2 separate regions of the Homo sapiens genome follow, and region 1 is linked to region 2. Evidence: fine-mapped expression QTL. A gene starts in region 2. The other region holds a variant in brackets. All regions are shown on one strand. Distances are from middle to middle. Region 1 overlaps PAFAH1B1 (platelet activating factor acetylhydrolase 1b regulatory subunit 1). Region 2 holds the start of PAFAH1B1 (platelet activating factor acetylhydrolase 1b regulatory subunit 1).

What was found. PIP is the estimated chance that this variant, and not a neighbour inherited with it, causes the effect.
Region 1: its variant is the best candidate, but not a certain one, in a credible set for the expression of PAFAH1B1 in whole blood (TOPMed, PIP 0.74).

What each region holds. Positions count from the first base shown.
Region 1 is chr17:2,624,206-2,627,011 of GRCh38, forward strand. All of the region lies in intron 1 of PAFAH1B1 (platelet activating factor acetylhydrolase 1b regulatory subunit 1), which reads left to right. Among named protein-coding and RNA genes, the nearest start is that of PAFAH1B1, 32 kb to the left of the region's middle. The variant A/G (reference allele first, on the strand shown) is at 1,332.
Region 2 is chr17:2,592,675-2,595,480 of GRCh38, forward strand. It overlaps PAFAH1B1 (platelet activating factor acetylhydrolase 1b regulatory subunit 1), which reads left to right and starts at 980. Exons shown (of 11, transcript NM_000430.4): 1 at 980-1,332. RefSeq lists an enhancer at 186-914 and silencers at 749-968, 1,019-1,248, 1,659-1,718, 1,779-1,828.

The DNA.
Region 1 (2,806 bases), 32 kb after region 2:
CATTTTTGTAAAAGTCATTCAACAAGTCTCTAGGAGATTCTAAACTTTCCCAGGTTTTCCTGTCTTCTGAGCCCTCCAAACTGTTCCAAACTCTGCCTGTTACCCACTTCCAAAGTCACTTCCTCATTTCCGGGTATCTTTTCAGCAATTCCGCGTTCTACTGTTACCAGTTTACTGTATTAGTTCGTTTTCTTGCTGCTGATACAGACATACCCGAAACTGGGAACAAGAAAAGGTTTAATTGGACTTGTAGTTCCACATGGCTGGGGAGGCCTCAGAATCATGATAGGAAGTGAAAGGCACTTCTTACATGTCAGGGGCAAGAGAAAAATGAGGAAGAAGCAAAAATGGAAACCCCTGATAAACCTGTCAGATCTTGTGAGACTTACTATCGCAACAATAGCACAGGAAAGACTGGCCCCGTGATTCAGTTACCTCCCGCTGGGTCCCTTCCGTAACACATGGGAATTCTGGGAGATACAAGTCAAGTTGAGATTTCTGTGGGGACGCAGCCAAACCATATCACCTGGTTTCTCTGTGTTGCCCAGGCTAGTCTTGAACTCCTGGGCTCAAGCGATCTGCATGCCTCGGTCCATCAAAATATTGGAATTACAGGCTTGAGCCACTGTGCCCGGCCTCTGCTGACCTTTTAAATAAAGCTTTGGCAAGTGACAGTTTGAGGTTAGGAACCATTGATAATTGATGAATTACCGGATAAGTCTTTATTTCTTCCTTCTACATCTGATAATAAATCCGATGATTTCCATTTTCATGTCATTGCGCCTCTACTGTTAACATATAATTATTTATACTTTCTATTTTTTTTTTTTTAACTCTTCCACTTTCTCTTTTTGTGGTGGGGTACTTACCCTAGCAATAAACACATTGTTGTCTTAGATGCTGCATTGGATAGCAGATACGTGGATATAGTATTAGACTAGAGAATGCTTAAGAATTCTGCATTCCAAAAGCATACTAAAGCCTCTGTTTCTAGTGCTTAAGCAACAGTGTCCTTGATATCAGTCTAAGAAAGTCTGGATATTGACATGCAAATGAAAAAATCAGACTCTTTGAATTTTGTTTGTCATATATGCAAGTAGCTTAAAAGAATATTGGAATACTGCCAAAATACATTTCAAAAATATTAAATCTTCTTATTCGTTATTTTGACTTTGGAAAGATTTGTGAACCCCCTTAAAATACATGCAATATTTTGTTTATTTTCATATGTGCTTCTTTGAGAGGAAAGATCTTAGCTTTCATTATATTCTCAAAGGAGTCCAGTAACCTCAAAAAAGGTTAAGAACTTCTATACCAGGTAGTATGAAAAT[A/G]TTGCCTGATTTATTTGTACTGTTGGTTAATGTAGATTGTTCGTTGCAAAATATTCTAAACTCTTTCTTTAAAAAATGTTTACTCCATTTAAGAACCATTTATTAGAGGCTGGGCATGGAGGCTCTTTCCTGTAATCTCAGCACTTTGGGTGGCCGAGGTGACAGAATCGCTTGAGCCCAGGAATTAAAGACCAGCCTAGGCAACATAGCGGGACCCCGTCTCTAGCGGAGGTTGGGGGTAAAAAGAAAAAATTAGCTAGGCATGGTGGCATGCATCTGTTGTCCCAGCTACTCAGGAGGCTAAGGTAGGAGGATCTCTTGAGCCTAGGAGTTAGAGGCTGCAGTGAGCTATGATCGATCATGCCATTGCTCTCTAGCCTGAGTGACAGAGTGAGGACCCTGTCTCAAGAAAAACAGAAAAACGTTAATAAAAGCCAGGCGTGGTGGCTCATGCCTGTAATTCCAGCACTTTGGGAGGCCAAGGCAGGTGGATCACTTGAGGTCAGGAGTTGGGAACCAGCCTGACCAACATGGTGAAACCCTGTCTCTACTAAAAATACAAAAAAATTTAGCTAGGCATAGTGGTATGCACCTGTAATACCAGCTACTCGGGAGGCTGAGGCAAAACAATCGCTTGAACCCAGGAGGCAGAGGTTGCAGTAAGCCGAGATCACGCCACTGCACTCCAGCCTGGGCGACAGTGAGACTCCGTCTCAAAAAAAAAAAAAATTATTTCTGTTTTCATGTGGTATTTTGCGATTATGTGTTAACCATTAAAAGGCAACTGGAAAGGTAAAATTGTATTCTTAAAATAAGTATGATAACTCAATCATATACTTGTGCTTTCTGATAGCAAAAATACATGTTAAAGGTTGGAAAGGTTAAAGTTAGAAAATTCACAGGCTGAAATAATCTGAGTTAAAGGGTGCCTTAGATGTTAGCTACTATGTAGAAAATTTAGATTAATTACTCAGGTTATAGAGTTGATGACAAACTTGAACCGGCATCACCTTTCTTCCCCCCCCCCCCCCCCCCGAGGCGGAGTCTTGTTCTGTCGCCCAGAGCTGGAGTGCAGTGGCGCGATCTTGGCTCACTGCAACCTCTGACTCCCTGGTTCAAGCAATTCAACTGCCTCAGCCTCCCAAGTAGCTGGGATTACATGCGCGTGCCACCAAGCCCGGCTAATTTTTGTATTTTTAGTAGAGATAGGGTTTCACCATATTGGCCAGGCTGGTCTTGAAGTCCAGATCTTGTGATCTGCCCGCATCGACCTCCCAGAGTGCTGGGATTACAGTCGTGAGCCACCCCGCCTGGGTGCAATTTTTTATATGTTTGTTGGCCATTTGTATATCTTCTTTTGAGAATTGTCTCTTCATGTCCTTAGCCAACTTTTTGATGGGATTGTTTGTTTTTTCTTACTGACTTGTTTGAGTTCATTGTAGATTCTGGATATCAGTCCTTTGTCAGATGTATAG
Region 2 (2,806 bases):
GTGGCAAGTGCCTGTACTCCCAGCTACTCGGGAGGCTGATGCAGAGAATCGCTTGAACTCGGGAGGCGGAGGTTGCAGTGAGCCGAGATCGCGCCACTGCACTCCAGCCTGGGCGACACAGCGAGACTCCGTCTCAAAAAAAAAAAAAAAAAAAAAAGGAAAAGAAAAGAAAAATCATAGGTATCTGTGTGGAATAAATTAACTACAAATCCCCAAGACGACTCTTGTCATCAATATTTCAATCCATAATTTAGCAAACACACACAGACATCCCTTATAGGGATACAGTTCCAGGCCTTTCTTTGGGCATCCGTTTCGAGACCTGGAGAGACTCTGATGTCTGTGTGTGACTAAGGAGAAGAATAGCTGAATCATATCCAAAAGCGAGTCCTCCCAATTAAGAATCTATAATACAAATCAAGACAATGACAGCATTCCATCTGCCTTTTAACCTCAACAGCTCCTCCTCCCAAGCCAGCCAGCCTACTCCCCTCCCTCATTCCCCCCCAAACTGGGAAATCATCTCGGAGGCCGGAGGCAGAAAGGGGCGGTAGGTGGCCGGGCCCCGCTGCCTCTCGCGCCTCCCGGGGCCCGCCACACACGGTGCCAACGGGACGCCGCGGTCGGCCGCATGAGCGCAAAAGCAGGGCAGCGAGGTGAGCAGAGCCAGAGTTCAGAAGGGGCCGCAAGTCAGACGAGGGGCTGGGAAAAAAGAGCCTCTCCCAAGGTTAACAGAAGCGTGCGGAGCGTGAGAAGCAGCACCTCGCACGCAGACTCGCCCGCCGGCCGGGTGGCACCGCTCAGCCGCCCGCCCGCTAGAAGGCAGCGCGGCCCCGGCCCGGCCCAGCCCGGCGCATGCGCCGCAGCCCCTCCTCCGCTCCCGGCGCCCGCCCCTCCCTCTTCCTGGCGGGTCTGGGGCGGCGGCGGCGGCGGCGGCGGCGGCGCGGTGACGTCAGGGCGTTGGGGCAGCTCCTGTGACAGACGGAGCTGGAGCGGCGGGGCGGCGGCGGAGTCCGGCGGCCGGGAGAGCGAGTGAGCGAGCGGAGGAGCAGCGACACGGGAGTCTAGGGAGCGAGAAGGAGAAGGAGGGGAGCGCTCGGGCGCGAGCGAGAGAAACCGCGAGCGCCGAGCTTGGACTCGAGCCCCGGAACGGCTGAGGAGCCCGCCCGCTCCCCTCCCCTCCCCCTCCCCGGGCCCGGGCCCAGCGCGCCATCCTCCCCCCTCCTTCCCTCCCTCCCTCCTTCCTCCCTCCCCTCTCCCTCCCCCTCCCCCGCCGGTGGATGGGAGTGAAGGACGGAAGAGGCCCTGCGGAGGCGGCGGTGCAGCGCTCCGGTAAGGCGGCGCGGGTCTGCGCCCTCCCCTCTGTCTCCTCCACCGCGCCCGGGCGGCTGCAGGCCGGACCCGGCGGCCTGACGATGTGGCTGCGCCGGTCCCCTCCCTCCCATTCTCCCCTCCCCCTGCCTCCGCCGCCGCCTCCTCCTTCTTCTTCTCTCCTCGCTCTCAAAATGGCGGCCGCGACGGCCGTTGAGTGAGAGACCCGGAGGAGGGGGACTGTCCGGGGAGGGCGCTGCCCTCGCTCCTCTCCTCCCGGGCCCGGCTTTGGGGGCTGCCGGCGCCTCTGCGACCCCCGCCCCGCGGCCCTCCCCAAGAAGGGATCGCCCTCCTCCCTCGGTGACTTAGCAAGAAAAGTATTCTTGGGTTGGAAGGGCGTGGGGACCAGGTAGCTCTCTGATCTTGGGGAAAAGGATCGGCCCTGCTCTCCCCGGCCGCGGAGACGAGCACCGCAGTCCCCACCCCACCCTCAGTTATCGGCTCGGGGACCGGCTCAGCCCCGCGCCGCCGGGGCACTCATAGGGCCTTCCAGGCATTCCGTCCCCGACTGGTCCTTAAGATGGGGTTGACCAGCGGAGGGTGGCCCACCGTCTCCCTGGCCCCCGGTGCGGCGGTCCAGCCTCAGCACCCGCCGAGGAGAGGCAGCCCGGCCCACCGAGCAATCCGCAGCATCCACCCACCGAATCTGGCAGGATTTTCTTTCTGCCACCGGCTCCTCGGTCGGGAGTTGCCTTTTGATGCTGTTAACATTCAGCTTCGAGGCTCCCTGCCATTCCCCTTCGTCTAATCTCATCTCCCTGCCCCTTTGGGAAACGCAGTGCCTCTGCATATTTACCCTCTTTAGCCTCCCACATGAGAAAATGCCTTTGAGGTGGTCGACACATTTTGACTCTGCACCTCTAAACGTAGCAGTAGAGGGGAAGAGGTTTTCCGTATTTAGTAGGAGAGAGCAAGGTACCATAGCTTTATATGTTATGCTACCTTTCTTCAGTGACTTAGCAAGAAACTCCTTGGGAAGAGGGCAGGAAATTTTCTTTTGGGGTTTGGGCCCAATTTATATCAGTCTTTTGGTTAAGAAAATACGCCTTTGAAGAGGAGGACCAGATTTGTGGTCTCGTTCTCAATGGGCGATGTCATGCCAAGGTCCCCCCTCCCTCTTTCCTTAAGTGGCAGTCCGGACAAATAGAGATATTACTGATATTCCCATCTCTCCTTTAAGCACACAGTCTTGGAGTTTCATAAGGTTTTAAAGGCCAAACAAACAATTTGTGCCATTTTTGGCAATTCTGTTTTTGTTGGGGGGGTGGGTTATTTTGTGTGAATTTCTTTTCGAGGCTAGGGCGGAGGAGACAGTGCTTGGGCCTTTCATACCAGTGATAATGTCATCCCTCCCTTTTTGCCACAGGAGTGTTTGCTTTTTTTTTTTTTTTTGCTGCAGCAGGGCGGCTTAATTGCTGCGGGGTCCAGTCTCATA